Homo sapiens: one gene and its partners. Changing the gene in region 5 together with the main gene of any one other region gives a genetic interaction. Each region holds a gene or a part of one and is shown on either strand. Other genes may lie near its edges. The genes, in order: SHISA8, KRTAP4-1, ACR, ZNF8 and PTP4A3.

The links.
Region 1: changes in PTP4A3 (region 5) and SHISA8 together harm fitness less than expected from each alone (positive genetic interaction), as found in Homo sapiens cells (one study listed by BioGRID).
Region 2: changes in PTP4A3 (region 5) and KRTAP4-1 together harm fitness less than expected from each alone (positive genetic interaction), as found in Homo sapiens cells (one study listed by BioGRID).
Region 3: changes in PTP4A3 (region 5) and ACR together harm fitness less than expected from each alone (positive genetic interaction), as found in Homo sapiens cells (one study listed by BioGRID).
Region 4: changes in PTP4A3 (region 5) and ZNF8 together harm fitness less than expected from each alone (positive genetic interaction), as found in Homo sapiens cells (one study listed by BioGRID).

The regions. Positions count from the first base shown.
Region 1 is NC_000022.11:41,907,794-41,913,982, reverse strand, and holds the end of SHISA8 (protein shisa-8 isoform 3 precursor), read left to right. Parts: intron 1-2,633; coding exon 2,634-2,767; intron 2,768-3,143; coding exon of another isoform or gene 3,144-3,428; coding exon 3,429-3,575; intron 3,576-3,835; coding exon 3,836-4,218; 3' UTR 4,219-4,440; downstream 4,441-6,189. UniProt on the Homo sapiens protein: May regulate trafficking and current kinetics of AMPA-type glutamate receptor (AMPAR) at synapses.
Region 2 is NC_000017.11:41,182,137-41,187,862, forward strand, and holds KRTAP4-1 (keratin-associated protein 4-1), read right to left. Parts: upstream 2,776-5,726; 5' UTR 2,719-2,775; coding exon 2,278-2,718; 3' UTR 1,964-2,277; downstream 1-1,963. UniProt on the Homo sapiens protein: In the hair cortex, hair keratin intermediate filaments are embedded in an interfilamentous matrix, consisting of hair keratin-associated proteins (KRTAP), which are essential for the formation of a rigid and resistant hair shaft through their extensive disulfide bond cross-linking with abundant cysteine residues of hair keratins.
Region 3 is NC_000022.11:50,741,549-50,747,023, forward strand, and holds the end of ACR (acrosin precursor), read left to right. Parts: intron 1-2,512; coding exon 2,513-2,658; intron 2,659-3,104; coding exon 3,105-3,659; 3' UTR 3,660-3,791; downstream 3,792-5,475. UniProt on the Homo sapiens protein: Acrosin is the major protease of mammalian spermatozoa. It is a serine protease of trypsin-like cleavage specificity, it is synthesized in a zymogen form, proacrosin and stored in the acrosome.
Region 4 is NC_000019.10:58,287,316-58,293,972, forward strand, and holds part of ZNF8 (zinc finger protein 8), read left to right. Parts: intron 1-6,657. UniProt on the Homo sapiens protein: Transcriptional repressor. May modulate BMP and TGF-beta signal transduction, through its interaction with SMAD proteins.
Region 5 is NC_000008.11:141,398,521-141,405,177, forward strand, and holds part of PTP4A3 (protein tyrosine phosphatase type IVA 3), read left to right. Parts: intron 1-2,050; exon of another isoform or gene 2,051-6,657. UniProt on the Homo sapiens protein: Protein tyrosine phosphatase which stimulates progression from G1 into S phase during mitosis. Enhances cell proliferation, cell motility and invasive activity, and promotes cancer metastasis.

The DNA of each region.
Region 1 (6,189 bases), on a different chromosome or scaffold from region 5:
CATCAGGGAGACACCTGACACCGCCCTGACTCCCTTTGACCTTCTGCCCGTGCTGGGCGCCGCACCGCCTTTCCCTGCTCGAGTCTCCTCTGGAGGGCAGGGGGGTGGGGGCGGGCTGGGAGGGGGACAGGTAGCCTTGCACAGAGGGCACCGGGTCACTGTCCAGGGTAAGGGGCGCCGCTGGCCAGGGAGGTGACCGGGCGTCTTGGGCACGGGAAAGGAAGGGGCGCTTGGTTCTCTGGGTGCCCATCTCCTGCTTCTCCCCACTCCTCCCTCCCCTCTTCCACCTCCTGCCTCTCCCCTGCCCCCACAGCTGTGACTCAAGGCTGCCCTTCCCTCCTTGGGTTTCAAAGGCCTCCCCCCACTCACCCCATGCCACAGCTCCCAGGTGAAGGTCAGGGCTCCCTCTGCGTAGAAAGGGGACTCTGGAACACAGTCGTGTGTTGCTGAGGCCAGGACAGGTGCTTGTTGCATTCTGAGCTTGGTGTGAAGTGGGCACTACAGGGTCCAGGTCCCCTTCCTCGGTTGGAACGAGGACTCTAGGACTCTATGTGTCCTGACCCTGGAACTCCCACCCACATGCCACACGTGGCACTCACATGCCCCCAGCAACCCCCATGCCCTGGGGCCTGTGCCCTCCTCATCCACCCGGTCCCAGCACCCTTTGGGCCTGTGGGCTGCTGACACCGAATGTGACAGGCTGGTATTTAAAAGTGACCATAGAGAAGCCTTCATACCCTGGCAGGCCAGATGTGGACACTTCCCCCTCCTGGGCCTCAGAGGCAGGGGGTGAGGGCTTCCTTGGCACTTCAGCACCCCTCGCTCCCGAAACCACGTAGCCCACTTTCTCCCAGGGAGCTCTAAGGGAAGCCCGGGCTGGCACCCTGGCCTCCACCCTCAGCTTCTGCACTGCCTTCAGGAGGTGGAGCCTCCTGGCCTGGCTTCTGGATGCTGCAGGGGTAGGGGCTGGGCTGCCCAAATTTGGGGGTCCCCCATGATGGGTGAGGGTAGCTTGGAAGAGGCCTGGATATGTCTTTGACAGGGGCGGGGAAAAAGGAACTTAGGGCTGCGATGGTGAGGGGTGGCTGCAGCAGCCCAGCTGACATGTTCATCCTGAACTCCCTGCACCTGCTGGGGATGGGGCAGCAGGTTTGGTGATGCCGCAGGAAAGCCATGCCCACCCTTGCTGTGCTGTGTGGTGTAGGCCAGTCCCTTCTCCTTTCTGGGCTTCAGGCTCCCATGGCCCCAACTCCCTTTTCTCTGCTGGGGAGACCTGGAATGGGACGTAGGCTTGTGTGTGGGTGTGTCCTGAGTCCCTGTCCTCCCCTCGAGTCTCACCCTTCATTCTGCTGTGTTGGGGTTGAAGGCCAGGGAAGGCTTCTCAGAGGGCTTGGGCGGGGCATCTGGAAAGAGTTTGTGCAAAGGCCCAGAGGCGTGGTGGTTACTCAGCTGTCAGGGAGACAGGAGCTTGAGGTGCTTGCCCAGAGATGAGGCCACAGAGGTGAGCCTCTGGGGAGAGGGCAGGGCAGGAAGGTCAGCCCAGGCAGGTACTAGGATGGTTTCAGACCCTGCCACCAAACCTGAAGCCAAACCTCGGCCATCCCTGGTGTCCTGCCTCCTGAATGACCTTCACGAATCAGCCATTTGAGGCTCTAGCCCCGGAAGGAGGGTCAGGCTGAGTGGGAGAAAATCATGGGTTCCGGGTTCTGAAGGCAGCTGGGCTGCAGACACTGTCACATCACAGCTGGGTGGGGGCTGGGTGTTGGGTCCAAGGAGGTGGCTGTCCAAGGTCACACAGCCTGTGGGTCCTGGGCTGCCACCAGGGGGTCTCCCAACATCCCCATTCCGTCACCCATCTGTCCTTCATGCCCGTGATGGCAGCTTTATCCCAGGTCCCAGCAGAAGCCGCGGCTGCAGGGGCAGTTAGGCAGGCAGGTAAATAAGGCATCCTGGGCCGGGCGCGGTGGCTCACACCTGTCATCTCAGCACTTTGGGAGGCCGAGACCGGCGGAGTTGGAGACCAGCCTGGCCAACATGGTGAAACCCCGTCTCTACTAAAAATACAAAAATTAGCTAGGTGTGGTGGCAGGCACCTTATAATCCCAGCTACTAGGGAAGCTGAGGCTGGAGAATCACTTGAACCGGGGAGGTGGAGGTTGCAGTGAGCCAAGATTGCGCCATTGCACTCCAGCCTGGACAACAGAGCGAGACTCTGCTTCAAAAGATAAAAAAATTAAAAAAAAGGATTCCTGGAGGAGGCCGCTGATGGGGTCTGAAGAATGAGTAGCAGTTTTTTGGGAGAAGAGGCAGGAAAGCAGAGAAAGCTCGCATTGGGAGGGGAGGCTCACCTGGGGAAGGTCCCTGAGAGTGGGCTCCAGGGAGGGGAGGGGAGGGAAGGGGAGCCTCATTAGAGTTTCCTGACCTGCTCTGGGAAGCAGCTGTCTTGGGGCCACAGGTGAGGCTGGCAGATACTGCCTGGGAGGGGAAACTCGTGCGTGATTTCGAGCACCGGAGAGGACGGCCTGGAGAGGCCGAAAGAACTGCCCAGGGCCACACGGTGAGACGGTGGTGGCCGGGGCTGGCTTTTGATGAGGTGGGAGACAGAGGGCCACCCCTGACTGCTGTCCCCGCAGGGCGCTGACAGAGCTTCTGAAGCAGCCGGGCCCCCAGGAGCCACTGCCTCCCACCCTGGGCCCACCCCTGGGTGGCTGTGTCCAGGTGCAGATGGGGGACGGCCTCCCCCGGGGCTCCCCCCACAACAGCGCAGGTGAGTCGGTGGCGGGCGGGGCTGAGCGGCGGCGGAGCACGCGGAGGGGCGTGAGAGGCCGAGAGGCGGTCCCTCGGCTGGGGCATAGAGGCTTCCCCGGTGGAAATGAGCCGCGGCCTCTGCGGGTGAGGGGCCCGACCGGCCAGCCAGCTCGCCAGGGTGGAAAGGGACCCCCCACGGGTCCTGCGGCCTCGAGTCTGGGGGGCTGTGATGTGTGAGGAAGGTTCCAGATGCAGGATTTGCTGGCCGGGGCTGTGATCTGAGGCTCGGGCTCCAGAGCCTCCCCCTGGGTCTCTCGAGAGGCAGGCAGGCTTGGCAGCCCCCACGCCCCGTCTGGGTTCTGTTCCTCAGACATCCCCCGTCTCGGCGGGAGCAGGTCCCAGGACTCCGCGCCTGGCTCGAGCGTCGCCTCCGGGCGAGCCGTTCATGAGGGTGGCACCCCCCGGGCTGGCTGCCGCCGCCGCTGCGCGTGACTCGGAGCCAGGCCCTGTTCCAGGCGCTGGAGGCTGCGGCGAAGACAGGCTTGGCTCGCAGCCTCGCCCGGAGAACGGTCCCCCAGGTTCTCACCGAACGGCCTCGGGGAGAGGACTACGGAGAGGTGACAGCGAGGGCGGAGTGAACCGGGGCATCGGACCGAGCCGCGTCTCACTCCTCGCTCCAGACAAGAAGCGCCTCAACAACGCGCCCCGGGGGTCGGCCGCCCCGGGGCCCCCGCGCGGCCCGCGGCTGCAGGGCGGCGGCAGCCTGACGCTGCAGCCAGACTACGCCAAGTACGCCACGTTCAAGGCCGCCGCGCTCAAGGCCGCAGGTGAGTGGCGGGTGCGGGCAGCGTCAGGGCACCTGGGCGCACGAGCTCCCGGACTGCGAAGCGCGGGGCCGCAGCTCCAAGCGCCAAATTCCCAGTTCCGCGCGCCCGCCGCTCGGCCAATCGGCTCCCTCGCCCCAGCGGGCCCCGCCCCCGGCCCGCCCCGGCCCGGTCCCCGTCCCAGTCCCCGGCCGGGACCCCTTGTCCAGTCCTGAGCTTGGGTGCTCGGCGCGGCGTCACTCTTCCCTGCCCTGTCCCCGCAGAGGCCGCCCCGCGGGACTTCTGTCAGCGTTTCCCCGCCCTCGAGCCGTCCCCGCGGCAACCCCCGGCGCGGGCTCCGCGACCATCCCCGGACTTGCCTGCGCCGCTGGACGCCTGCCCCTGGGCCCCGCCGGTCTACGCGCCCCCTGCCGCGCCGGGCCCCTATGCCGCCTGGACCTCCAGTCGCCCGGCCCGGCCCGCCCCGCTCAGCCACCCGACGGCTCGGGCCTTCCAGGTACCCCGGCGACCCGGGCACGCGGCCCGGCGCCAGTTCAGTGTGAAGATGCCTGAGACCTTCAACCCGCAGCTCCCCGGCCTTTACGGCAGCGCGGGCCGCGGGTCCCGGTACCTAAGGACCAATAGCAAGACCGAGGTCACCGTGTGAAGCGGGGCCGCGGTGCCCTCGAGGCATGGGCTGGGGTCCTGTCTGCCCGTCGGAGCCTCAGGCCACAGGGAGAGGAGCGCCTGCCGTAAGGCCAGCTCTTCTGTCTGCCTCAACGGCAGTGGTGTCTTGGAGCCTGCAGGCCGCGGGTTCGTCTTGTAAATAAGCCCTTTTATGTGGTTCCTGCCCCTGAGAATAAAGAAGCCCCAGCGTGGCTGCGAGGCACCATTGGTCACTGACTGTACAGATGGCAGTGCAGGCAGAGGGCACGGCGAGTGCAAGGTTGGAGGACTGCTCCAGTGCACCGGCCAGAGCCAGGGGGAAGTGGCTGGAGAGGGGGGCCAGGGTTGAATGTCAGGGTTAATGCCCACCCCCGTGGGAGCCCTGGGAGAGAGGGAACAGTTAGACTTCAGCCATAGAAAGGCCCGGGCACAGGAGAGAGGGCTGTTGGGTCCAAGGCCCAGTGGGGGGTCCATGCCCTGTACTGAAGGTGAGCCCCCTCCAGCCGCCACTCTGCAGCTTGAGTTGGCTGAACCTGGCTGATGCTCACTGACCACTGGCTGTGGGCCAGCCCCTGGCCTGCAGGTCGCTTGGCCAGATTGGCCCCGGGCTACCCCCCTTAATGGGTGTGGGCCGTGTGGACATCTGGTGCTCCGGATGGGGGCGCCTCCTCCCAGGAGCTTCTCTGAAGGAAATGGGGGAAAAGCTGGAGCAGGGTCCCTGGCAGTGTCCCTCCGGGAGGGCTTCCTGCACCTGGCTGTGGTCCAGAGCACTGCTAGCAGTCTGCGTGCATCTTCCACAGAGTTCCTCTCCGCCAGGTAACACTGGGGAGGCTAGGGGTCAGGGCTGTGGCTGGTTGAGGTGTGTGATGTGGGGAGGCTAGGGGCCAGGGCTGTGGCTGGTTGAGGTGTGTGATGTGGGGAGGCTAGGGGCCAGGGCTGTGGCTGGTTGAGGTGTGTGACCTCAGCAAAGCCACCCAGGTGGGTCTGTTTCCCTCCTGAGTACCTGAAGTGTGGTGTACTGTTTTAAGAACAATGGCCACCATTTGTTGGCCTTTCTCAGGAAATCCACAAGCGCCTCAAGTGGGTGTGTCTTTACAGAGGAGGAAATTTGGGTTTTGAAACCTAAGTAGCTTGCCCAAGGTCACCCAGCAGACTCCCAGGTTAGGACTCTCCCGAATTGCTGTGAATCGGCTGGAATGGCAAGCAACAGGCAGTTTGGCTGGGAGGGAGGGTTCTGAGGGTTGGTAGGGAGGGGTCCCTGTTCCCAGGGTATATATAAACAGTCTGGAGCTTTCCTTCTGCTGGTTGGGCTGCCCTGAGGCCCCAGAACCCACCAGGCCCGGTCTCCGCTCCTGCCACAAAGGGTCCACCTCCCTGTCCCTTTAGGCTGTTAAGGAAACCAAGGCCTAGAAGCACCAGGACAGAGCTCTGGGCCCACGGTCCTGCCCCTGTCCCACAGCTGTGCAGAGCTGGAGGAGGGTGGGGGCTGAGGCATGGAGCCTACACAGACTCACAAAGGAATCTGGTTGCTTCTCACCCCACCTCCCACCCCCTGCTGGGCTGTGCCAAGAGTGGGCAATTCCCCCTGCTCATTCTCAGTTCCAAGGGCCCTGGATCTCCATCCCAGTGGAGCCAGGCTGAGGCTGTGGGCAGTGGCCATCCCTGAAAATGATGGAGCTGTGCACGGGACCAGCTGCAATTGGGCCTCACCGGGCTGCTCTGGTCTCAGGGTAGCCTGCTGTGACTACCCTTCAGAGAAGGATGTGGCTCATAGCTGAGGGATTCAGCCACATGCTCAGTCACATCCTGACTCCTCTTGCGACGAGGCCCAGCACTCCCATCCCAGTCTGTGGTCCTGTCCCCTGGTGTGTCTTACGCCAAGCCTGGCCTCACCAGCCACACAAGGCACTCGCTGTAAACTTGCATCCCATCACTCAGTCCTGGCAGACAAGCCTTTGGAGCTGCAGTTCAT
Region 2 (5,726 bases), on a different chromosome or scaffold from region 5:
CATGCCTGTAATCCCAGCACTTTGGGAGCCCGAGGCAGGTGGATCATGAGGTCAGGAGATCGAGACCATCCTGGCTAACACGGTGAAACCCTGTCTCTACTAAAAATACAAAAATTTAGCCGGGCACGGTGGTGGGTGCCTGTAGTCCCAGCTACTCAGGAGGCTGAGGCAGGAGAATGGCGTGAACCCGGGAGGCAGAGATTTCAGTGAGCCAAGATCGCGCCACTGCACTCCAGCCTGGGCGACACAGTGAGACTCCATCTCAAAAAAAAAAAAAAAAGAATGTGACTTTCTTTATGACACTAATGTTATATTGCTCTACTGATATGATAATGTACTTTAATTTTTGCCATTTTCTTCTTCGTCCTTGTCTAAATTTTGCTTCTAACTAAAGTCCTTAACTCTTGGGCCTATTGATATTATTTGGTTATGGAATGGAAATTATCTCAAAGACATGAGAAACTGTGATAAGTTTGAACTTCCAAAAGGGAAAGTAGTTGCTAAAGAGCAGAGGAAACAACCAGATGGCTGCCTTGGAGCTAGGCTGCCTTGGGTAAAACATTCACTTGTCATGGGGAGATGAGAGGCTGCTGTAAACATGGTGACACACGCTATAAAGACAAAACAGATAACATTTCTTGACAATTTGCTTTGCCTATCCCAGACAAGTGTGGACAGTAATTGGTATTTAGGTATAAATTATACCAATGAAAATGAGAAATCTACCAGTATTTCTCGCTTTACCTTCCTGCTGTCTACCCATCAGCTGAGTGGCACCCCCATCATTTGCAATGACCTTCCACTGCATCTGTGCTTCACCTTGACAGCCTTGGCATTACTGCTTACTGCACTCCTGCCCATATTTTCTGATCCTTCATGATTATTATCATTATTGAAAAGAATATTATTTCCCCATTTTAGAACATCTATAATTTTTTTGGTCCTTTCCTGAGGATAATTTTTATTCTATTAAATCCTGTATTTTGCTCAAGTATATTTTTTTTTCATGTGGAAGTGACATCAGGCAGAATAAGCAAAGCCATGTGGCTACAGGAGACATATGGTTTGCTTGTCTGAATATGACCAAGTTTACCTGAGATACAAGAAAGCTGTAGAGTCTAAGCATATCCCGAGAGTGCATTCTTAGCTCACAGCTTAAAATTACAGCCTGAGTCCTTCTCTTTTACAACTCTATCATTGCCTACCATTCAAACCCTTACCCAACTCCTCCCTGACTCTTCCCCAAAGAGGATATTCCCTTGTCCTTGTGTGGCTCCATCTTTGACTAAGAGCTTTCTCATTTGCCTATGACTTTTAGTATAGTACCATTAACATAGAGGTGATGGGATGAGGCCAGTGAGGTTTAACTTCCACCAAATTTGGTCAACACCAACTGTTTCTTAGCTCATCTCAGTCTTGTCCTCATAAGAATGTAAACATTTTCCTATATTTTCCTCCTCTTCATTTCATGGGTCTGTGACCTGCACATCTTCCCTGTACCAACTTAACTCATTCTATTATTAAATGTGTGTATATGTATATTCCTAATGTCTTACTCTTCCCCAAGACAGAAAGTTCTCCTCTGATCAGTACTACCCAGCACAATCTATCTACTTTGCTCTTTCCTCTTATTTCCAAGATTAGACGGTGAGCTCCTTTTAGGAAGCTCCTGTGCCTCACATATCTTGATGTGATCTCCAGAGCCCAACAGTGCAATGAACATGACAGATGATCAATAATTTCATTGACTGAATAAGAAACTTTTGTTAGTTAAATACAGCGAGTTATCTTATTTTGAAAAATTTATGAAGTCCTTTCTATAATATAAGCATTACATTATATTTACAAAATCAGTTTTCTTTCCTGGTCGTGGTAACCCAAATTTGTCTTTATCTTGAGAGAAGTAATGCTAAAAAATAAACTGACAACTAATTCTCAAAAAAATTGAAAAAAGAGAAAAGAATTACTGATATTAAGATAATATTTATTGAAGAACAGTTAATATGTAATTTTGAAGGTCAAATCAAGCATAACAGTCAGAAACTTAGAGGCTTAGTCTAACTGCATCATGCATCTGAGGTCTGAATGCTGCTGGGAAGAGATCCATGGGAAAAATGAGTGGTATTAAATGTAGATGGATGCCCTTTCACCAGTTACTTAGTGGAATAACAGGATAATAAAGCTGATGGCCATTTAACACATGGACAAGTTGATATAAATGACACTTTCATATCATGGGATGGTGACTGGCTCATGGTTGATAGTCCAATATGAGGTTCAACAAGAGGATCCACAGCAGCTGGGGCGGCAGCAAGTTGCACGGCAGCAGGTGGTCTGACAGCAGAGTGGACGGCAGCAGCTGGACACACCACAGCTGGGGCGGCAGGTGGTCTGACAACAGAGTGGACGGCAGCAGCTGGACATACCACAGCTGGGGTGGCAGGTGGTCTGACAGCAGAGTGGGCGGCAGCAGCTGGACACACCACAGCTGGGGCGGCAGGTGGTCTGACAACAGACTGGGTGGCAGCAGCTGGGGCGACAGCAAGTGGTCTGGCAGCAGGTAGTCTGAGAGCAGGATGGGCGGCAGCAGCTGGATACAACACAGCTGGGGCAGCAACAGGTGGTCTGGCAGCAGCTGGGGCGGCAGCAGGTCTCTTGGCAGAGGCCTTGATCACAGCCCTGGTCAGAGCAGACAGAGCCACAACAAGAGTTAACCATGGTGTCAGAGGGTGGAGGTTCTAGGTAGGTTTCCAAGACAGTGAGTTTTTCGAATGTGGGAATCTCCTTATCCCATGTCCACTTTTATACTCAGCTGAGGAGCTGTTGTCACCACATAAAAGCTATTTCCTTGTTATTGTTTATCTTAATAGATAGGCAATTATCAAGTTAGCTAATTGTGGGAAAATATCTGTATAAAAGGTGGAATGCACTTTTATTCTTTCTCTGTGTTAGAGTTTAGCCAATCCAGTCTTTCCTCCTCCTCTTGTCTTCAGTTAATTTAGTGTGTCATTTAATTTCAAAGACTTGTAATCTTACTCATCCAGTCGATTGTCAGGTGACAGATCACTTGGAACTCAGCATTCTGTGTGTCATCCTGAAAACTGTGTGTCTCACAGCAGTCCTCAAATGGGATGATGTTTCTTGTTTTCTGAAGATTCTTCTGAGAAAAATAAACTGTGAAACAACTAGAAGAAAACAGCAGAAATTGTCTTAAAATATTAGAAGTGGAGTGGATTTTCTAATACAGAAAAACTTAACAACAATGAAGAAAAAGATTGAAAAAAATTTACAACAGAAAAAAACTCAAATGCCTGATTGAAAAACAAGAAGGCTAAAGAGTAAGCTGAAAATAAATAATAATACCTTAACCAATCTACAAATAAATGAGCTAATTTTCTTAATCCATGAATACCTCTTACAACCCAATGAGAAAAACAACAACAACAACAACCAAACAGAAAATTGAGTAAAGGATATTAACAGTGATTTCACTAAAAAAAGAAATTTAAGTGCCTTTTGAGCTTCTGAAAGATGTTTAGTCTCACTCATAATTTAAGGTATTTTAATTGAACAACTTATTCACTCATCAAACCATCTACCGAATACCTACTGTGTGCCAGGTTCTACTGCATGCTCTCGGGATATGGCAGTGAATACTTGCTATTTGTAATGACAAATGTAAAATATTTAAGTTTAAAAACTTTAATAAATTGGTGAAATTATAAAGACATTGACATTTTAATACACAGTTGGCAGGGATCTAAATTGAGGCAACTTCTTTAGATGGTAATTAACAGAATCTGAAATTTAACAGTATCTTAAATTAATTTAGCATATTTTGAAATGTGCGTGTGTTTTGATTGAGCCTTTTCACTTCTAGAAATGTATTCAACAGATGCACCTATACATACCTTCCAAGATGTAAGTTCAAGGGTATTCTTTGCAACATTGTTTGCAAGAATAAAGCCTGATTTTAAATTCTATTGTGTTTACGGAGGGGAAAGCCCTTGATGTAGGCAACACACACTAGTGCTCAGAGGCAGTGAAGCATCACTTTCTTTTTATCACCAAAGAAACCTCTTTGACCTATTCTTGCAATTTTTCTATAAGTGCAAGACGACATTAATTTTTAAAAAAAGAAATTAAGAATGTTATCTCTTTAGGCCATCCCTATCCCATGCAGACACCTACTTTCTATTTAGACTGAGTTATTCAGGAAGGAGGGAAGAGGGGATGGAAGGAAGGATACAAGAACATATTTAGAATATATTTTTATGGACATATTTTATGACTATTTGGGGTATATATAAAAATTATGAAAATTCAGTTCGTTAGGCATAAAATGGCATAAAAATATCCATTGTGTCTAAGTTGATAATGATTTTACTCAAATTCTCCATATCTTTGTTTACTTTTCTTCTTCAAATGACCGTTTTTGAAATAGTATGTTTAAAGCCTCTGCTATGATTGCAGTTTTATCACCTTCCTGTCTATTTATAACAGGTTTTTTTCTTTGCACTTAGTTTGAATGTAGCCCAACTTCTTATGACAACAAGAATATTAATATTTTTGCAGACATAATTAATGTATCATAAGGAAGTCACTATCAAGGTCAAAGCAAGTGCAGGTATCATAGGCTTGGGATTCTGGTCTAACTGAGCCACAGTTCTATGGTCACTTGTTTGTTTAGAAATAGCCCTCTCTGTCTGAAGGCAGGGGAGACAGCTTAGAGATAACCCTTCTCCTTAAAACAAGTATGTTTTCAACATGGTAGTTGACTCAGGCTGGTGGTCAGGAATGAAATTCAACAACAGGATCCACAGATTGGTGGTCTGGCAGCAGACTGGATGGTAGCAACTGAACTCACAGAAGCTGCGGCAGCAGCAAGCGGTCTTGCAGCAGGTGGTCTGGCAGCAGCTGGGATGGCAGCAGATCTCTTGGCAGAGGTCTTAACCACACCTCTGGTGACAGCAGAAGGAGCTGCAGCAGGAGCTGACCATGGTGTCAGAAGGTGGAGGTTCTGGGTGTGGGTTTTCAGTGGCATAAGGTACTAGAGTTCATAAGCCTTCTTCCTTCCAAGTTTCCTTCTCTACCCTGCTGAGGACTTGCCATCACCATGACCTGGGTTATTTCCTTGCTATTGTTTATCTTACCTGAAGAGAAATGATCAGATATTCTGATTGAAGCATGACATTGTAGCAGTTAGCCTTGGTTTTTAAAATGGATGCTAAGGTAATTTCCATTTAATCAGTTATTTATCCCTAAAAGCACCATTTTTCTTCCTTTTTTGTTTTAGCATCATCTCATCCATTCCTTCATATACTTTTCAGAGTGTGTCATTTGATATTCTGAGCACAGGACGAGTCATTCTTTTGTTCCAACCATTTAATTTACTGTTCCTGAATGAGCTGCATAGCCACAGTCCCTTCAATTTGAACAGTATTTAAAATAGATGTAAACATGGATATGTTAATACCCAAAAAATAAGACCCCAGTACATTATAGCAAATAGCTGCTAATGAAATCAGCATAGCACACTTATAAATTATGAAGTAGCTAAAAAACATCTAAGGCACGTGGCTTCAAATTTAACTTGTTCAGAATAGAATTGCTCATTCTGTTTCTTTTCCGAACCAATGCCCTAATTAATTCCCCAGTCCTATTACAAATGGTTGTTAGTCCAAATTTTCAAGCTAGGGCTGGGCGCAGTGGCTCACGCCTGTAAT
Region 3 (5,475 bases), on a different chromosome or scaffold from region 5:
GATGCCATGCAAAACCTTTTTTGTTCTGGAATTCCCATAAACCTAATAGGATCACTCTGTTTCTGTTTGGGGTTTTTTTGTTTTTCATTTTTGCAAACACATCCTGTACCCATAAGCCCAAGTCTTAAAGAAACCCCCAGGCTCCAACTCCTGTGATCCCTTCAAACCTTCCATGTCTTACCACCTCCTTCAACTCATCTGCTTTGGGGCTGGAAGGGTATTGCTTGGGTATTGCTTCTTTCCCATTGGGTTTTGAGTCCCTGCAGACTTTTAAGCATTTGTTATTTAAAGCCCAGGTGTCGGCTGGGTGCAGTTGCTCATTCCTGTAATTTACCCAGCACTTTGGGAGGCCGAGGCAGGTGGATCACCTGAGGTCAGGAGTTTGAGACCAGCCTGGCCAACATGGTGAAACCCAATCTCTACTAAAAATATAAAACATTAGCAGGGTGTGGTGGTGGATGCCTGTTGTCCCAGCTACTCGGGAGGCTGAGGCAGGAGAATCACTTGAACCCGGGAGGTGAAGGTTGCAGTGAGCCAAGATCACGCCACTGCACTCCAGCCTGGGTAACAAGAGCGAAACTTCATCTCAAAAAAAACCCGCCAAGGTGTTGGGATTTAGAAAACCCTTTTCTGTTTGAGGACACCTGGCTCTTCACAATAAAACCCATGGCTTTCAAGACTATGGGCTCTGCCCTAGACTTAAAAAGTCATCTTGGCCGGGCGCGGTGGCTCACTCCTGTAATCCCAGCACTTTGGGAGGCCAAGGAGGGTGGATCACAAGGTCGTGAGATCGAGACCATCCTGGCTAACACGGTGAAACCTCATTTCTACTAAAAATACAGAAAATTAGCCGGGCATGGTGGCGGGCGCCTGTAGTCCCAGCTACTCGGGAGGCTGAGGCAGGAGAATGGCGTGAACCCAGGAGGCGGAGCTTGCAGTGAGCCGAGATGGCGCCACCGCACTCCAGCCTGGGCGACAGAGCAAGACTCCGTCTCAAAAAAAAAAAAAAAAAAAATCGTCTTAATGGCTAATAAGCCAGGATTGTTGTCATTGTTGTTTCAATGTCACCCCTACCCCAAGGGCAGTGCATGTACAAAACTCTCACTGCTGCTTGGATGGTAAGAAAAGGTGGGGGCTAAGGGGATTAAAAAACGGAAAGCCAGCGAGCACTCGTTCAGCAGCCGCTTACCAGACGCCTGCTGTGTGCCGAGCCCTATGCACGTCACTCGTGTGTCCCCTGTCTCCCGTCCTGGCCTGTGCAGCTATGTTCTGGGTCTGCCCCTACCTCAGTCTGCTCCCATCTGCTCTGCAGGTGACGTCCAGATCCACCCCCAGGGTTGTAGGTGCTGCTGCGGTGGGGGCCAGAGTGGCTGCTGCTGTTGGGGACCCTTCTGTCTGTGGGACCCCTTGAAAAGGAGCAACGCTGGCGCATGCGCCGTAGCATCGGGTCTTTCTAACCCAAAGGTCACGGTAGAGAGTCCAGCGCTTTCTTTCTTTTTTTGTTTGAGACGGAGTCTCGCTCTGTGGCCCGGGCTGGAGTGCAGTGGCGCCATCTCGGCTCACTGCAAGCTCCGCCTCCCGGGTTCACGCCATTCTCCTGCCTCAGCCTCCCGAGTAGCTGGGACTACAGGCGCCCGCCACCATGCCTGGCTAATTTTTTGTATTTTTAGTAGAGACGGGGTTTCACCGTGTTAGCCAGGATGGTCTCGAACTCCTGACCTCGTGATCCGCCCGCCTCGGCCTCCCAAAGTGCTGGGATGACAGGCGTGAGCCACCGCGCCCAGCCAAGTCCAGGGCTTTCAAGGAAGTCCGCATCGGGGTTGTTTCAACCGCCCCTGCCCCTGCCAGGTCTGCCCGTGTGTGGAGGCGCTGCCCCGAGCTTCCCCTGCGGTCTCCTCGGAACAGATATGCAGCATATGGGGAGGGACTTATTGACCCAGCTGCAGCAGATCCCGTCCGCAGCTGAGCCGAGGAGTTCTGAAGAGGGACAAGAAGCAGGGGGAGTGGCTTACAGCCAGACTGTGGGAGTGGACAGTGTGTCTCAGACTGGAGTCTGGAGAGGAGCAGTCCTGAGGCCAGGCTGCAGCCCCACCACCTCTCTACTGTGACCTGGGTGGGCGGTGCTCCAGCCTTCTGATCCAAAATGGGAATAACGGGACCATGTGACTCAGGGAGTGCTTGGTGCACACTAGGTGTTATTGGTAATACTGCAACTAACCTCCATAATCCATCGTTAATACGCACACCCACCCCCCATCCACCTGTCCACGGGCCTCCACCCTTCCTTCCTCTCTTCCTCTCTCCTCTGGCCTTGATTTGGATAACATTTCCCCACCTCCTCCCACCACCTCTAGTCTGCTCTTTCTGGTGTATAAGGAGGGGTCGGGGCATCGACTGGATGGGTCTGAGGTTTAACTGGAGCATCACAGAGGATGGGGTTCGGTGGGGCAAGGAGGCAGGGCTTTTGTCCGTGTCTCCCGTGATCACTGACCACCGAGTGGTCTGACTATAGCCCCCAGGCCATCATCTATACTGATGGAGGCACGTGTGGATCTCATCGACCTGGACTTGTGTAACTCGACCCAGTGGTACAATGGGCGCGTTCAGCCAACCAATGTGTGCGCGGGGTATCCTGTAGGCAAGATCGACACCTGCCAGGTAACCTTCCTTCTGGCTTCTGGGCCCCTGGGTCCCTCCAGGACTCTCCCGGCCCCTGAGAACATCCTCCTTTTGGATCCCCAAGCTCCACTATCTCCACTGCTCTGCCCAGGGCCCTTCTCTAGTGACTGCTTCCCCGGTCCCTTTTCTAGCACCTACTCTCACAGTGGGGATGAGCGGTGACAGCCACCGGCTGCCCCTGCCATGTGCCCCTGTGGACACGTGGGTTTGCTCATCTCACTGCAAGGAAAGCCCTGACAATTCACACCCTCCTCACATCCCAAATGAAGCCCCTGACACCCCCTCAAACTTTACTACAACCACTTGTGTTTACAGCAGCAGGAGACCATGTCACTGTGGAAATTGTCCTCCCAGAGCCTTCCGACCCCTCTGGGCAGGGGAAGAGTGGCTCAGGCAGATAGTGACCTCTGTGTCCTTCTGGACAGGGAGACAGCGGCGGGCCTCTCATGTGCAAAGACAGCAAGGAAAGCGCCTATGTGGTCGTGGGAATCACAAGCTGGGGGGTAGGCTGTGCCCGTGCCAAGCGCCCCGGAATCTACACGGCCACCTGGCCCTATCTGAACTGGATCGCCTCCAAGATTGGTTCTAACGCTTTGCGTATGATTCAATCGGCCACCCCTCCACCTCCCACCACTCGACCGCCCCCGATTCGACCCCCCTTCTCCCACCCTATCTCTGCTCACCTTCCTTGGTATTTCCAACCGCCCCCTCGACCACTTCCACCCCGACCACCGGCAGCCCAGCCCCGACCCCCACCTTCACCCCCGCCCCCACCCCCACCTCCAGCCTCACCTTTACCCCCACCCCCACCCCCACCCCCACCTACACCCTCATCTACCACAAAACTTCCCCAAGGACTTTCTTTTGCCAAGCGCCTACAGCAGCTCATAGAGGTCTTGAAGGGGAAGACCTATTCCGACGGAAAGAACCATTATGACATGGAGACCACAGAGCTCCCAGAACTGACCTCGACCTCCTGATCTGACCTGGTTCTCAACAGACCCAGTGAGCCCTTCACTCCTGAGAAAAAGGAAAGATGAAATAAATAAATAAACATATATATATAGATATACACACACACATATCTGTATGTATACATGCATATACATCAAGAGATGCTTTCTGGACTTCTTCCTATCCCCCCTCCCAACCCAAATTTCCCCTATAAAATCTACCCTCTCTCCTTCACCCTACAATAAGGCGGAATTGCTTGTACATTAGTGCCAATCGTGTTTTTTAAAATCTTGATTTTTAATGCTGGAATAAGGTGACCTGGGGCCGTAGACCGGGGATGGTCTTTATTTCACACTTAGGGAGAAACGACAAATGGTGAAAATAAAAGAGCCATCTCTGCATGTGCAAGTCAAAGGGGGTGGACCCCCAAAGCAGCAGCTGTGAGTGAGCTGACGGGGAAAGAGGGGGTGTGGGTCCAAGTCTTCTATCAGGAGGCTGGTGGTGTTGACACCCACAGAGAAGATTCTGCATGAAGGTTGAACTCCCCAGAACACAAAGGCTAAGGAGGCCACTAGGCCACCAAAACAAGTGTCTACTACCAAACACAATTTTGCTTGTGGCTTGTTAGTGTCCAGTTGACACCAACAAGCCTGTTCATTACTTGCCTGTAGTTAAATCTTATTAGTTCCTGGATTTGAGCAAATTAAAAAATGTATTCTTTGCTAGAGCTTTCTAGGAATTGCAATGGGGAATACTTTTTGGATGCCCCCGAGTGAGCTTTGAGTGGCTTCCTTAGGATTTGGGGTTATTTATTTTAAGACCTTCCATTGCAAGGAACAGAAACCAGTTAGAGCCATTTAAGTGATAAGGATGCAAAGATGTCACACAGAACCAATAGGAAAGGCCAGAAGCAGACACCAAGAATGGTGAGGAACCCAGGCAAGGCATGACCCTGGTCTGCATAGAGTACCTGCCCCACACTGCCCCATGCTGGGGGCAGCTGTCACCTGGAACTGTTCACATCTATTTGCAAAATCCTGGGGAAGAAATCCTCCAGCCTGACCAATATGGTGAAACTCCATCTCTACTAAAAACACAGAAAAATTAGCCAGGTGAGGTGGCGGTGCCTGTAATCCCAGCTACTCGGGAGGCCGAGGCAGGAGAATCACTTGAACCCGGGAGGCAGAGGTTGCAGTAAGGCGAGATCACGCCACTGCACTCCAGCCTGGGTGATAGAGTGAGACTCCATCTCAAAAAAAAAAAAAAAAAAAAAAGAAGGAAATCCTGATAGGTTCAGGCCAACCGCCCACTCTGATCAGGGAGTAAAAATGCAAAACTTGACTGCTGGTTTAACCCCTTGTGAGACTGAAGATGGCAGGTCTCAGAAAGAGAGAAAACCTTGGCATTTGGCTGAGCAGTCATTGCAACAAGCTTTCACTCATACGTGTGTCCACCTAGCTGCCTGTGTGAGTCAAGCGCAAGGTGGTCCTATGCCCCGGTTACCAAGACAGGTGGCAGAGAGAAGGTGCCATGGCAGGTGGGAGGAACCCTGGCTGAGAAAGCTCAAAGGACCAGTCATTTTCCTGCTGGAGCTGGAACCTGGACTGATGGAGCAGCTGTGAATCTTCATCTTCAAAATTTATTGGTCTACCTGGGTTCAAGCAAATACCCTGCTCTACCCCGCATAAGCTCCGTGCTCTGGGGAAGATGTGCCAGAGGGCTGTGTGACCATGAAATAAGGACAGATGCGGAGTATTAAAGCAGGTCTTGACACACCAGAAATGCCCACGAACGTGGGCTGTCATTCATGGGCCAGCTGGTGGTGACTGCTGGTGCATAATC
Region 4 (6,657 bases), on a different chromosome or scaffold from region 5:
GGCGTGAGCCACCATGCCCAGCTTTTTTTTTTTTTTTTTTGAGACCGTCTCTGTTGCATAAGCTGGAGTGGCAGCAGTGTGATCATGGCTCAGTGCAGCCTCAGCCTTCCTGTCACAAATGATCCTCCTGCTTCAGCCTCTTGAGTAGCTGGGACTACAGGTGTGTACCCCCACACCTGGCTAATTTTCTTTTTAAATTTTTTTGTAGAGACACAGTTGCACTGTGTTGCCCAGGCTGGTCTCAAACTCCTGGGCTCAAGCAATCCTCCTGTCTTGGCCTCTCAAAGTGCTGGGATTACAGGTATCAGCCACTGCACCTGGCCTTTTTTTTTTTTTTTTTTTTTTTGAGACAGTCTCACTCCGTTGCACAGGCTGGAGTACAGTTGCATTATCTTAGTCTCCTAGGCTCAAGTGTTCCACCTACCTCAGTCTCCCTAGTAGCTGTTACTACAGGTGTGTACCACCATGTCCAGCTGATTTTTTTGATTTTTTTCTTTTTCTTTTTTAAAAATTATTTTACTTTTTTTCTTTTTTTTTCTTTCTTTCTTCCTTTTTTTTTTTTTTTTAGAGATGGGGTCTCGCCATCTTGTCCAGGCTGCAGGCTGCTCAAACTAACTCCTGGGCTCAAGCAATCCTGCCTCAACCTCCTAAGTGCTGGGATTATAGGCGTAAGCCACTATGCCTGACTTTTTGTTTGTTTGTGTGTCCTTTTTTTTTTTTTTTTAATAGAGATGAGATCTTTCTACACTGCCCAGGCTGGTCTCAAACTCCTGAGCTCAAACAGTCCTCCTGCCTCAGCCACTGAAAGTGCTGGGATTACAGGTGTGAGCCACTGTACCTGGTCACATGTCTAGATTCTGTAAACTTGTTCCCCACACCCTTCTTTATTCTCTTATGAGGAAGAATTGTGTTTAGCTATAAATACCCTAAAACCAGGTTGGAGCAGCTCAAAATAAAGAAGCATTTTTCTTGTAAAACAGGAGCCCTGAGTCTGCTGGTACTGTCTTGGCATCTCAGAGGTGCCAGGGCTGATTGTTCTGTGATTTTCCCAGGCTGTCCTTGGGATTACAGTGCAGCTGCAGCAGCTCCAGCCATCACAGTTGTGCTCCATGCAGGAAGGAGGGGAAGAGGTAGGAAGAATTCTGCCAGCCACATCTGTCCCCTTTTGGCAGAACTCTAGATGTCACCTGCTGGGGTCTCTTTAGCCAGAACTAGGTCACCTCCTCTTGCACTGACCCTAGTTGCTAGAGAGGCTGGAAAGCTAGGGGTGTCTAGATTGTCATAATTGGCTTGGGCGAGTCATGGTCCCCTTGCTGTGGCTTGTGTGTTGGTACCCTGACCACATTCTAGAGTAAATAGCATCTGGCCATGGGATGTACAACCAGCAATGCCTGCAGATTAGCCTCCCACCCAAATACTTCTGATGCCACCCAGGGCTTTCTGATTCTGCAGAAAAACACATATGCCCCCATGATAGCGTATGACCTATCAACTGGGAGTCGGGTGAATCTGCTGCAGACCCTGTTTTCCTGCCCCTTTCATCGGTTGTCACTGCTGTTACTTCAGACATGTATGTCGGAAGCAAATTCTCATCACCCTGGACATATGCCTGTCACTCACAAGTCTTATGCCATAACCAAATCCAGGATCTAAAACGTGTGCCCATAAATACTAAGCAAAATGTTGTGCTTGCATGGATTAGGAGTATGGGGTCAAAATCATGATGGACAGTTTCAATAACTTAATACCTAGACAGTTATAAATACTCCAGAAGCAGAAGGTTTTCAAGGCTTTATGTTAAGACAGAAACATATTTTCCATGTAATGCTTTGTATTAGTTTCCTGTTGCTCCTGTAACAAAGTACCACAATCTAGGTGGCTTGAAAAAGCACCGATTTGGCTGGACGCAGTGGCTCACCCCTATCATTCCAGCACTTTGGGAGGCCAGGGCAGACGGATCACTTGAGTCCAGGAGTTCGAGACTAGCCTGGCCAACATGGCACAACACCGTTTCTACTAAAAATACAAAAATTATCCAGGTGTGGTGGTGCATGCCTGTAATCCCAGCTACTCAGGAGGCTGAGGCACAAGAATCTCTTAAACCCAGGAGGTGGAGGTTGCAGTGAGCTGAGATCATGCCACTGCACTCCAGCCTGGGCGACAGAGCAAAACTCTGTCTCAAAGAAAAAAAAAAAAAAAAAGGACAGATTTATTTTCTTATAGTTGTGGAGGTCAGAAGTTCAAAATGGTTCATCAGGGCTAGTTCCTCTGACGGCGCCCAGAGAGAATGCATTTCTGTCTTTCTCAGCAGCTGGAGGCTGCCCAGACTCCTTGGTTCATAGACCCTTCCTCCATCTTCAGAGTGCTTCACTCTGACCCATTTCCATTATCACAACCGCTTCCCTGACTCAGACCCTTCTGCTTCCCTCCTATATGGACTCTTTGGTCAGATTTAGGGCCCCAGGATAATCTCCCATTTCAAGATTCTTTTTTTTTTTTTGAGACAGAGTCTCGCTCTGTCACAAGGCTGGAGTGCAGTGGTGTGATCTCGGCTCACTGCAGCCTCCGCCTTCCCAGGTTCAAGCGATCCTCCTGCCTCCACCTCCCAAGTAGCTGAGACTACAGGCCGTGCCACCATGCCCAGCTAATTTTTTGTATTTTTAGTAGAGATGGGATTTCACCATGTTGGCCAGGATGGTCTCAATCTCTTGACCTTGTGATCCGCCCGCCTCAGCCTCCCAAAGTGCTGGGATTAAAGGCGTGAGCCACCGCGCCTGGCCCATTTCAAGATTCTTTTTTTTTTTTTTTTTTTTTTTGAGACGGAGTCTCGCTCTCTTCCCCAGACTGGACTGCAGTGGCGCAATCTCGGCTCATTGCAAGCTCCGCCTCCCGGGTTCACGCCATTCTGCCTTAGCCTCCCGAGTAGCTGGGACTACAGGTGCCCGCCACTGCACCCGGCTAATTTTTTTTTTGTATTTTTAGTAGAGACGGGGTTTCACCGTGTTGGCCAGGATGGTCTCTATCTCCTGACCTCGTGATCCGCCCGCCTTGGCCTCCCAAAGTGCTGGGATTACAGACGTGAGCCACCGCGCCCGGCCATCAAGATTCTTAATCACAGCTACAATATCCCTTTTGCCACATAAGGTTCCAGGGATTGGGATGGGGACATCTTTGAGGGGCCGTTATTCAGCATACCACATGATTAAAATAGAGAGTAAATTTTTTTTTTATTATTTTTAAGGAAAAGAAGCCTAGTCAATAGAAGAAGACCGCGTCTCTACAAAAAAATTTAAAAATTACCTGGCATGGTGGTGTGTTCTTGTAGTCCTAGCTACTTAGGAGGCTGAGCGGGGAGGATTGCTTAAGCCCAGGAGTTCAAGGCTACAGTGAGCTACAATTTGCACCACTGCACTCCAGGCTGAGCAACAGAGCATTAAAAAATAAAGGAAAAGAGGCCAGGCATGGTGGCTTACGCCTGTAATCCCAGAATTTTGGGAGGCCGAGGCGGGTGGTTCGCTTGAGTCCAAGAGTTCAAGACCAGCCTGGGCAACCTGGCAAAACCACATCTCTACAAAAAATGCAAAAAAATTAGCTGGGTGTGGTGGTGCATGCCTGTGGTCTCAGCTGTTCAGGAGGCTGAGCCCAGGAGGTTGCAGTGAGCTGAGATCATGCCACTGCACTTCAGTCTGGGTGACAGAGTAAGACCTTATTTCAAATATAAAATAAAATAATGGTGAAGAATCCCTGTCCAGGCAGATCCCACTCCCAGTGCACTCACAGGGGTTTGTGGGCTCAGGGATGGCTGGGCGATCTCAAGCCCCTCCTTGGCCCCTGTCACTCGTCTGGCATCATTCCTTACTGGTTCCCTCTTGCGGTTGCTCAGCTTCACCTGCTGCAGGTCACCTCCTGGCTGACTACAGTCCCAGCTCTTCTCCCATTTCCTCTCTTCATCAACTGCTCACCCTCTCTCTCGGAGACTCCATGGCTTCCCATGTGCCAGGATCAGTGAGTTGTTCTGGGCAGCCAGGAGTCAGGCTGGAGTTGGAGCCTGTCTCAACCTCAGTGCTCTTTGCTGTTCCTGGCCAGGCCAGTTCACTAGTGTTCTCAAGTCCCCCTCCTCCGGATGTTCTTCCGCACTCTCCCAGCAGGCAGCGTTAGTCTTGGCTGGGGTCACAGTGTTGTCTTTAGTCTCTGTGTTTTCGTCCGTGTTGTCTCTCAGGCAGTCTCCCAGCTCACGAGCCTGTTCCATGGATGTTCCTGAGGACCTGCCATGTGCTGCTGTTTGTGCTGTGGATGCAGCAAAGAATGACAGGAAAGGCTGAGCCCTCACTCAGCATCTGGGAGATGGAAGTCTTGAGAGATGGATGCCAGTGCCAGGCAGTGATGAGGCCGTAAAGGAAATGCACCTGGGGAGGGCAAGATGGGGTGCTCATGCCCCGGGACTGGCAGGGAGGCCTCTCTGAGAAAGTGACTCAAACTGGGGCACAGGGAGCAAGGTGGGCAGATGTCTGGGGATGAGGGTTCTTGGCAGAGGGAGCAGCAGGTGCAAAGGGCCCCAGGAAGGAGTATGGGGGATGCATTAGAGGGATGTGAGGAGCCATGTGGAGCAGAGTGGGCGTGGGGCAAGAGTCAGGAGGTGAGACGAGCCAGGGCATGGTGGAGAAGGGCACAGGGTCGTGTCCATCCTCAGAAGTGACTGCAGAGTGAATGGAGGAGTGACCAGGGCTGGCTTGCAGTGGGGAGGAGGGTGGGTCTGTTTGGTTTTGCATAATAGCTTTATCAAGATAAAATTGACATACCATAAGTTCACCTATTAAAATGTACCACTCAGCGGTTTTGAGTATATTCTCAGATTGTGTGCAGCTATCTTTACTATCTAACTCCAGAACATTTCATCACCATCTTAGTCAGCTTGGGGTACCGTGACAAAATACCACCGCCTGGGTGTCTTGTACAACAGACATTTATTTCTCACGGTTCTGTAGGCTGGAATTCTAAGAGCACAGTGCCAGCTGATTCGGGCCCTGGTAAGGGCCCCTTCCTCAATTGCAGAAGGCCGCCTTCTCTCTGTGCCCTTATATGGCAGAGAGAGGAAGCAAGCCCTGTGGTATTTCTTCTTATAAGATCACTAATCTCATTCTTAAAGGCCCCACCCTCGTGACCTAATCACCTCCCAAAGGCCTCATCTCCAAATACCCTCACAATGGGGATTAGGGTTTCAACATAGGAATTTTGCTATCGACATTCAGTCCATAGCAGTCACTCTCCGTCTTTCCCATCCCCTGCCAACCAGTAACCTACTTTCTCTCTCTATGGATTTGCCTGTTCTAGATATTCCATACGAATGGAATCTTACAATTTGTGACCTTTGTATCTGGCTTCTTTCACTCAGCAGAATGTTTTCCGGCTTATCCATGTTGTAGCGTATGTCAGTACTTTGTTCTTTTTTGTGGCTGCATAATATCCCGTCGTATGGATAGACCATATTTTGTTTATGCATTTGTTGAGGGGCATTTGGGTTGTTTCTACTTTTGGCTATTAATTAATAGTGCCACTATGAACATTAGTGTATAAATTTTTGTGTGAAGTGACTTATATTTTAGAATAAACCTCTGGGTGCTATGTAGAGAGTCAGTTTTTTTTTTTTTTTGAGACAGAGTCTCTGCTTGGTCGCCGAGGCGGGAGTGCAGTGGTGTGATTTTGGCTCACTGCAACCTTCGCCTCCCAGGTTCAAGCGATTCTCATGCCTTAGGCTCCTGAGTGGCTGGGACTACAGGTGTATAACACCACACCCGAATAATTTTTGTATTTTTAGTAGAGACAGGGTTGGCCAGGCTGGTCTTGAACTCCTGACCTCAAGTGATCCTCCAGCCTCGGCTTCCCAAAGTGCTAGGATTACAGGCATGAGCCACCGGGCCTAGCCAGAGAGTCATATTTGGGGGCCAGAGGTGACAGAGCAGGAAGCCTGGCACCTGGCCAGCCTCAGCTCCTCCATTATCTCTCCCGTTGTCAAGCTCTCATTCATTCATTCCCTCGATACGTTCCTTCAGCATTCACTGAGAGATATTTTTGAGCTTCTACTACTTGTCATTTCTAGGCACTGGCTGTGAACATTCTAGTGCGGTGAGGTGTACCCAGAATGAATGAACACATGACCTGTATTTTGGTCAGGACAAGAGCAGATGAGGGGGCTTGAAGAGGGCTTGGGGAAAGCGGGAAGCCTGGCTTATAACAGAGTCCCTGTCCTAATCCCCAGAACTGGTTATCTTGGATACTGGGTGAGCAAGAGGGTCAGAATCAGACAAGGAGATGTGACAGCAGAAGCAGAGGTGAGTGAGAGAGATCTGAAGATGCTGTGCTCAGCTCTAGAGGTGAAGGAAAGGGCCAGGAATGCAGGCAGCCTCTAGGAACGGGAAGATGCAAGGATTTTCCCCAGAACCTCCCGAAGAGAAACCAGCCCTGCCAACACCTTGATTTTAGGACTTCTGTGTTCCAGAACTATAAGATAATAAGTGTGTTTTAAGTTACAGCAGCAAACAGGGAACTCATATACCTTGACTTCATTGCCAGTGCATGGCCCACAGCAGGTGCTCAATAAATGTTTGTTGAATGAGTGGAGCCGTGTCTGAGGGCACTTGATGTTAAAATAAGAGGAGA
Region 5 (6,657 bases):
CCTGCGGGGATCAGATTTCCCTGGGGTGGGGTCCTGGAAATAGGGCATCAAGAGGAAGTCTCTAACCCTGGGAGTTGGAGGGTCTCGGGTCCATGGCTGAGGGTGGATGTGCTAGAACTGGACTCTGGAACCTGAAGACCCCCGGATGAGGGTGCTCAGGGCCTGGCTGGGGAGACTCTTGCCTTGTTCTCCCCAGTGTCCAGGCCTGGGCTGCCCAGGGGACACTTCAGTTGATGACGTCATTGTCCAGGAGGCTTTTCTCTTGGACCTCAGTTTCCCCTTCTGCAGGATGGGCTGGACCCACTCTGTCTAGCTCTACCACCCCCTAGTCCCTCTGGGGAGCTGCAGGAGCCTGTTCCCACGGCCTCGTCCTCACCCGCCACGGAGACCTCGAAGCCAGGCCTGGCCCAGCTAGAGGAGGTGACGGGTGGCCCTGCCCTGTCCCTGTCCCCATCTCAGTCCCCTTCCCACGGGACCGGTGCTCCCGGCTGCTCTCCTGGCCCTGGGTCCCTCCTGTGACTCAGGCTTCCTGGAAGAGGCTCGGGAGGGCTCGGAGGATTCCCCGCCACCCCACCCAGGGTTTCTGCCCGCCTGCCTCAGGTCCCTGTCACCACCCCTCCTGTGGCACACGGTGTGCTTTACCTGCTCATCCACTCCGCCCTTGCCCCTAGAGCCGGTGCCTCTTACTCCTGGCACCCCCACTCTGGCATCTTCTACTGATGCCTGGAACGCTGGCCCCCTCCTCTGGCTCGCCTGGTCCTGGGGCCCCTGCCAAGGCAAACATCTTCTCCTTTAATCTCCCCGTCCTGGGTCAGCCGCAGAGGCCCTTCCTCCCGGGCTTTGCTTCCCTCTGGCCAGCTGCCCAGAGGCCCATCTGCTGGGAATTGCCGTGTGGAGCTCAGGGGGTCCCTGGGGGTGCCCGGGGCTCCCGGCTGCCCCTCCCCTCGGTGGCCTCCCTGTCCCCTCCGCATGGCCCTGGGGAGCTACAAGGCCTGGCCCTGGCTCTGCCGACTCTCCCTGCTCCTGCCCTTTCTGGGCCTCCGTTTTTGTGTCTGGAGAATGGGGAGCCTGGGGGAGACCCCGGCCCCCACAGCAGATGGGTGGGATCAGGACAAAGGCCTGGCAGCTGAGCTCCAGCCACCTGAGCCAGGCTGCTTGCTTCTGAGTCGGTGACTGCAATGGATGGACGGGGTCCTGGTGGCATGCCCTTTACTCTCTTCCAGGCCTGTGACCTGGGGGAGGGCTGTCCATGGGTGCCTCAGTTTCCCTACCTGCCAGGTTGTGTTCTTGGGGCAGGCTGGGGACGTGCAATGGCAGCACTGCGGGACCCACAAGGAGCTCACATGGGGGAGAGGCGACATTTGAACAACGCTTCAAACATGTAGTTATTGTTTTCTCTTTTTTGAGACGGAGTCTCACCCTGTTGTCCAGGCTGGAATACAGTGGCACGATCTCAGCTCACTGCAAACCTCCGCTTCCCAGGCACAAGCGATTCTCCTGACTCAGCCTCCTGAGTAGCTGGGACCACAGGCATGCGCCACTATGCCCAGCTATTTTTTGTAGAGATGGCATTTCACCATGTTAGCCGGGCTGCTTCTCCTGGACTCAAGTGATCCTCCTGCCCCAGCCTCCCAAAGTGCTGGGATTACAGTGTGAGCCACTGCGCCCGGCCCACCACTGTGCCTGGCCTGCCTCTGCGCCTGGCCCACCTCTGCGCCTGGCCCGCCTCTGCACCTTGCCCACCACTGTGCCCGGCCCACATCTGTGCCCGGCCCACCACTGTGCCAGGCGCAAACGTGGTTATTGTTTTAGACACACATTTGGTGATGTTCATTATAAAAATTCAAACAGCCTGGGAAATACACGGCTGCAGTAGCTCTGGGCTTCTGCTTCATTTCACAAGAACCGTGCCGGCCTCGGGTGCTGTTTTACAGTGTCACTTGAAATTTCCCTGGGTGTTGACTGGGGTCCTCTCCCGATGGCACCCTTGGACCCTGGTCTCTGGGTCTGGTCAGATGCTTGTTTATTAACCAGCCATCCCCCCACCCCCATGATGGGCTCTCCTAAGTGAGGCCATGGACAGCCAGGATGTGCGTCTCGGCACCGGGGTGAGTCTTTCTTGGCCCGCTGGCAGAACCCTGGGTCAGATGGGAGGGTTGTTGGTGCCCGGCTGTGTGTCTGCCAGCCCCTTCATCCCTATCCTGGCTGCTGTGTAGCTCCTGCCTCCCCATAACTCTTGGGGGGCTGCCCGGGTCCACACTGGCCCCGTGGGGATGGCAGTAGGCAGAGAGGGGCGGTCCTGACCCCAGAGAAATCCCATGGGTGAGTAGGACTTGTAGGAGATGGCAGTTCCCTCCCTGGAGCATGTGTCCCCAAGACTTAGAGGTCGTGGTGGGGCAGGAAGCAGGTAGTCAGGGTGGGCTTTTGGGAGGAGATGGCATCACAGTACGGAGGGAGTCATGCACGAGGCACCAGGAAGGGGCAAGCCGGGTGAGGACAGGCTCCTCCTGGGGACCCAGGACCTGACGGAACGGCATCACTCTTAATGGCACCGTCGCGAGCCTCTTCTGGGCCAGCAGCCGGAGCTCACCCAGGGCACATCCTTAAACCTCAGGGTCCCCTGGTGGCAGCTGCCATGGTCGTCCTGTTTCCCAGGGAGGGAAGCTGGTGTCTGAGGCTGGCACTCTGCTAGGTAGCACAGTTGGGGAGTGGCAGTGCTGGGATGGAAGACAGACAAGCTGGCACCTGCACATCTGCACGTCCTGTCGTTGAGGTGACCTCTAGCCAGCCAGCTCATCTGCTCCTTTGCAGATGAGGCCAGAGAGACGGGAGTCTCTGGTGTGGAGGGGAGGGCACTGGGTTTGGTGGGCTGGCCCTGGGGTAACTTGCCTGCCTGTGCTTCAGTGTCCCCCTCTGTAAACAGGGTGTGACGTCCCCCCGGCCATGTCGGAGGCTCCGAGAGGGCAGCGGGTCCATCTCAGCAGATGCTCTGCTGACGGATGCTGCTGGCTGGCCCCTGCTCCCACCCTCCCCTCCTTTGGTAGCCTCCCTGGGCCGGGCTGTTCCCACGGCTGCCCAGCCACAGGAAGCCATCTGGAGGCCTTGTTTACCCCTCCCCCTGGCCTCCCTGGCAGGAAGTCACCGGAAGGGCCGTCCCGAGGGGCCCCGGGCCTGTGAGGACAGCCATCGGCTCAGAGGTCTGTGCTGTGGAGTCCCAGGATAGCATGCGGGGGCAGGGAGCTCAGAGAACAGCAGGTGGAGCGGGGCTCCAAGGCACTGGAGCACGTGGGCCGGAGCATGGACAGAACCATTTACCGAGCGCATCCATCTGTCCATCCACACAGTCACCTACCCCTCCCCCGCTGTGGCCCCAGCAGGGCCCAGTCCCATGAAGCTCACAGTCTCAAGGCATGGACGAGGCCACTCCAGCTTCAGCCCAGGGGGGCCCCGTGATGCCAGGGCCATTCCTCCAGCTCCCGGGATCCCACACCTCCCCTGATATCACACAAGCCACCCTGGGTCGGGGCTGGAGGAGGAGACCTGGGCAGCAGCTGGGGTGTCCAGGAGAAGGGAGTTGGGGAGAGGGGTGCCAGCAGAGGGTGCAGCCTCTAGAAACATTGGAGGCCGCCCTGGGTGACGGGTCTGAGGCTGCAAGGTGTGGGTGGAGCAGGTGAAGGGAGAGGTGGGCAGGCACAGCTGGCAGGGGCTGAAGGCATGGATGGGACCAGTCGGGGTACTTGTGGCCCTGCAGAACCCCTCTCTCCACCACCTCCTCCAGCCCTCTGGCGCCCTGCTCAGGGAGGGCTCCCCCAGATAACCCTGTAGGTCTGGACCCTCCTGGAGTGGGCTCAGGGGCCTGGGTTTCCACTCCACAGGATGGGTCCAGCTGCCCCGGCATTTGTGGCAGCCCCAGTGCCCACTGACAGGCCTGAGTGTAGCTGGCTAGGCCCAGGGCCTTTCCCACAGACACTGCCAGCAGGGACTACCTGGCCCTAGGGGGATCTTTGACCTCCGTGGGGCCTTGCGCCCTGTGTTCTTGGCGGCCTCGCGCCTGTCCCGGCCTCCTGCCTTCGGGAGCTGGGTGGAGTGGGGGCAGGCAGCCCTGCCCCCGCCCACATGGGGAGGCTGAGGATTGGCCCTTCCGCCTCTGGCTACCCCTCTTCCCCTCCCCCATACCTCCTGCTCCCCTTTTTCCTCACTTTCCCCCCACCCCTCCCCCCTGCTTCCGCTTTCTCATCCCTTTAGAAGGTGCCTACTCATGATCGTCTTGAGTAAAGCCCTCCCTGAGAGTGTCTTGGGGTTTCGGGCCTGGCAAGCATCCCCAGCCTCCCCTGAAGAGGAAGTGAGCGTGAGAACCGGGCCTTTGGCGGATCCAGGTGCCTGCGGGCAGCCCGGGGGCTTGTTTGTTGGGTGCCTGGCCAGCGGGCCGGTCCAGAGCAGGAATAGATGTCTCAGGAGGGTCCCTGGCTGGTCCCAAGCACCTCCTGTGTGCACCAGGGCCGCTGTTCTTCCGTCCAGCCTCCCAGCAGCCCTGGGGTGTGGGTGCCTCTGATTCGGAGGGAGTGACGGGACTTAGGGTTAGCCAGCTCCCCAGGTCAGAGACGCAGAGCCCTGGGCCAACCCCAGGATGAGCCCCATCAGCCTCTCCTTCCTGACTCATTCAAGATAGTAAGTGAAAGAGGGCATGCAACCAGCACGCAGCCCCAGAGGAAGGCTGCAGCGGCCTCGCGCGGGGCCAAGGAGGCTGGGCACCGTGTGTGCCGTGGCACTGCCCTCCCTGGTGTTGCTGATGCTGCTGAGATGGGAGAATGTTGTGGGATTCTGGGGGAGGCTCTGGTCTGAGAGTCCCGAGCCTGGGGAGATGGCCTGGCTGGGCCCAGGCTGGCCACAGGGGCACCCCAGACTTTTTTCCTGGGCATGGTGTACAGTAAGTCCTCACATCACATCATCCATAAGTTCTTGGAAGCTGCGGCTTTAAGCAAAACGATGCCAGTTTTAAGTGAAAATTGGTTTAAGGACACTAGTGTTCCCATAAGTTGATAGAGATAGATAAGAGTTAAGTTCCTGCCAGGTATTTCTGGTCACAAAAACGTCACCAGGCTTCCAATGAAGACCCCAAACACTTCTAACATTAAACACTGAAGTAAATGTGAGCTACACATACATGTAAGAAAAGTGAATTAAACAGGGAAGAGAATTGCTTCCCCAGCTTTCCGTGGGCCAGTGAGTGGTAACGGAACACACATCTCACGGCAACCATGGTCGGGAGCTCCTCCTGCCACCACGCACTTCAAAATCAAACGATCACAAACGTGGCGGCTTCCTGTATTGCCACGCATTCGTCTGACTATGTCTATTTGACGAATTTTTATTTTGCAATAATTTTTATTCATTTATTCATTCATTTTCCAACCCACTAATTCCAGTGCAGGGTCATGAGTGGCTGAGCCTGTCTCAGCAGCTCTGGGCACAAGGTGGGACCTGACTCTGCTCAGGACACCATCCCCTCTCGGGGCACACTCCCATGCACAGCCACACCCACTCAGCCAGGGCCACGGCGACACGCCTGTTCACCGGATGTGCACAGCACTGGGGTATGGGGGAGCCGGAGGACAGGGAGAAAACCCACACAGACCTGGGGAGCTCGTGCACATGCCACGCAATGGCCCTGAAAGGGAAGCGATTTTTTTTTCTCGTCAGCGTTATCACAAAACCACGTTGAAAGCAACAGTGTTATTTGAGGAGCTGCTGTACTTGACGGATGGTGCAGGACAAGGTGGGCCCTCTTCGGGGCCTCTGCGCCTCTCCCCCTTTCAGGGGGTTGGGGTAGAAACTGGATCAAGGATAGGGGACTCTCATAGGATTGGAGGGTCCATTGGGGCAGGGCCCCCCAGCAGCTGAGGGCCTCTCTCCCCCTGTCCTGGGGTCCTGGGGTCTCTGGCCCCCATGAGTCCAGCTCCTGATTGCTCTGCCAAGTTTGCTGTCATGCCAGGAACTAAGCCTTTCTCCTCGTGAGCTCTCTTGCACCCACAGTATAGCCATGGTATTCAGTAGGTGCCCAGTAAGTGTGGGCTGGTGAATGGGCCTCCAGGGAGGTGGGATTTGGATGGACAGAATGGACGGGTCCTTGGGAGGTGGTACTGAGTCAGCAGAGGCTTGGGGGCAGAGCATCTCTGCAGAGGCAGGGGCTCCATCCTCAAGGACCCCCTGAGGGCCTCCAGGAGGAGGCAGCCATGGGGTGCGTGGGGAAGTAGGAGTGGCAGCTCTGAGTCAGCTTGTCCCAGCTCTGAGCTCCCTCCCGCACCTACCTGTCTCCACTGTGGGGGCCACACAGCCTTTACATATAAAGGGCATGGAGCAGCGCCTGGCACTCAGGCTGCCAGTACCACCAACTGGCAGCACTCATTGGGCACTGACTGTCTACATTGCCAGGAGTGTTCAAGAAGTAATTTAAACTGCCAGAAATCCTCATCCCACGGCATTAACTGACACCTGCTTTGGGCCTGACCCTGTGCCTGATCCTGGGGACCTGGCATGGGTCAGTCAACGCTCCCTGTCTGCCGCCCACAGTCCATGACAGGGACAGACAAGTCACGAACAGGGCTGCAGGGGCTGACCCAGGAATGAGCAGGACCTCTCTGGGACTGTTTAGGGCTT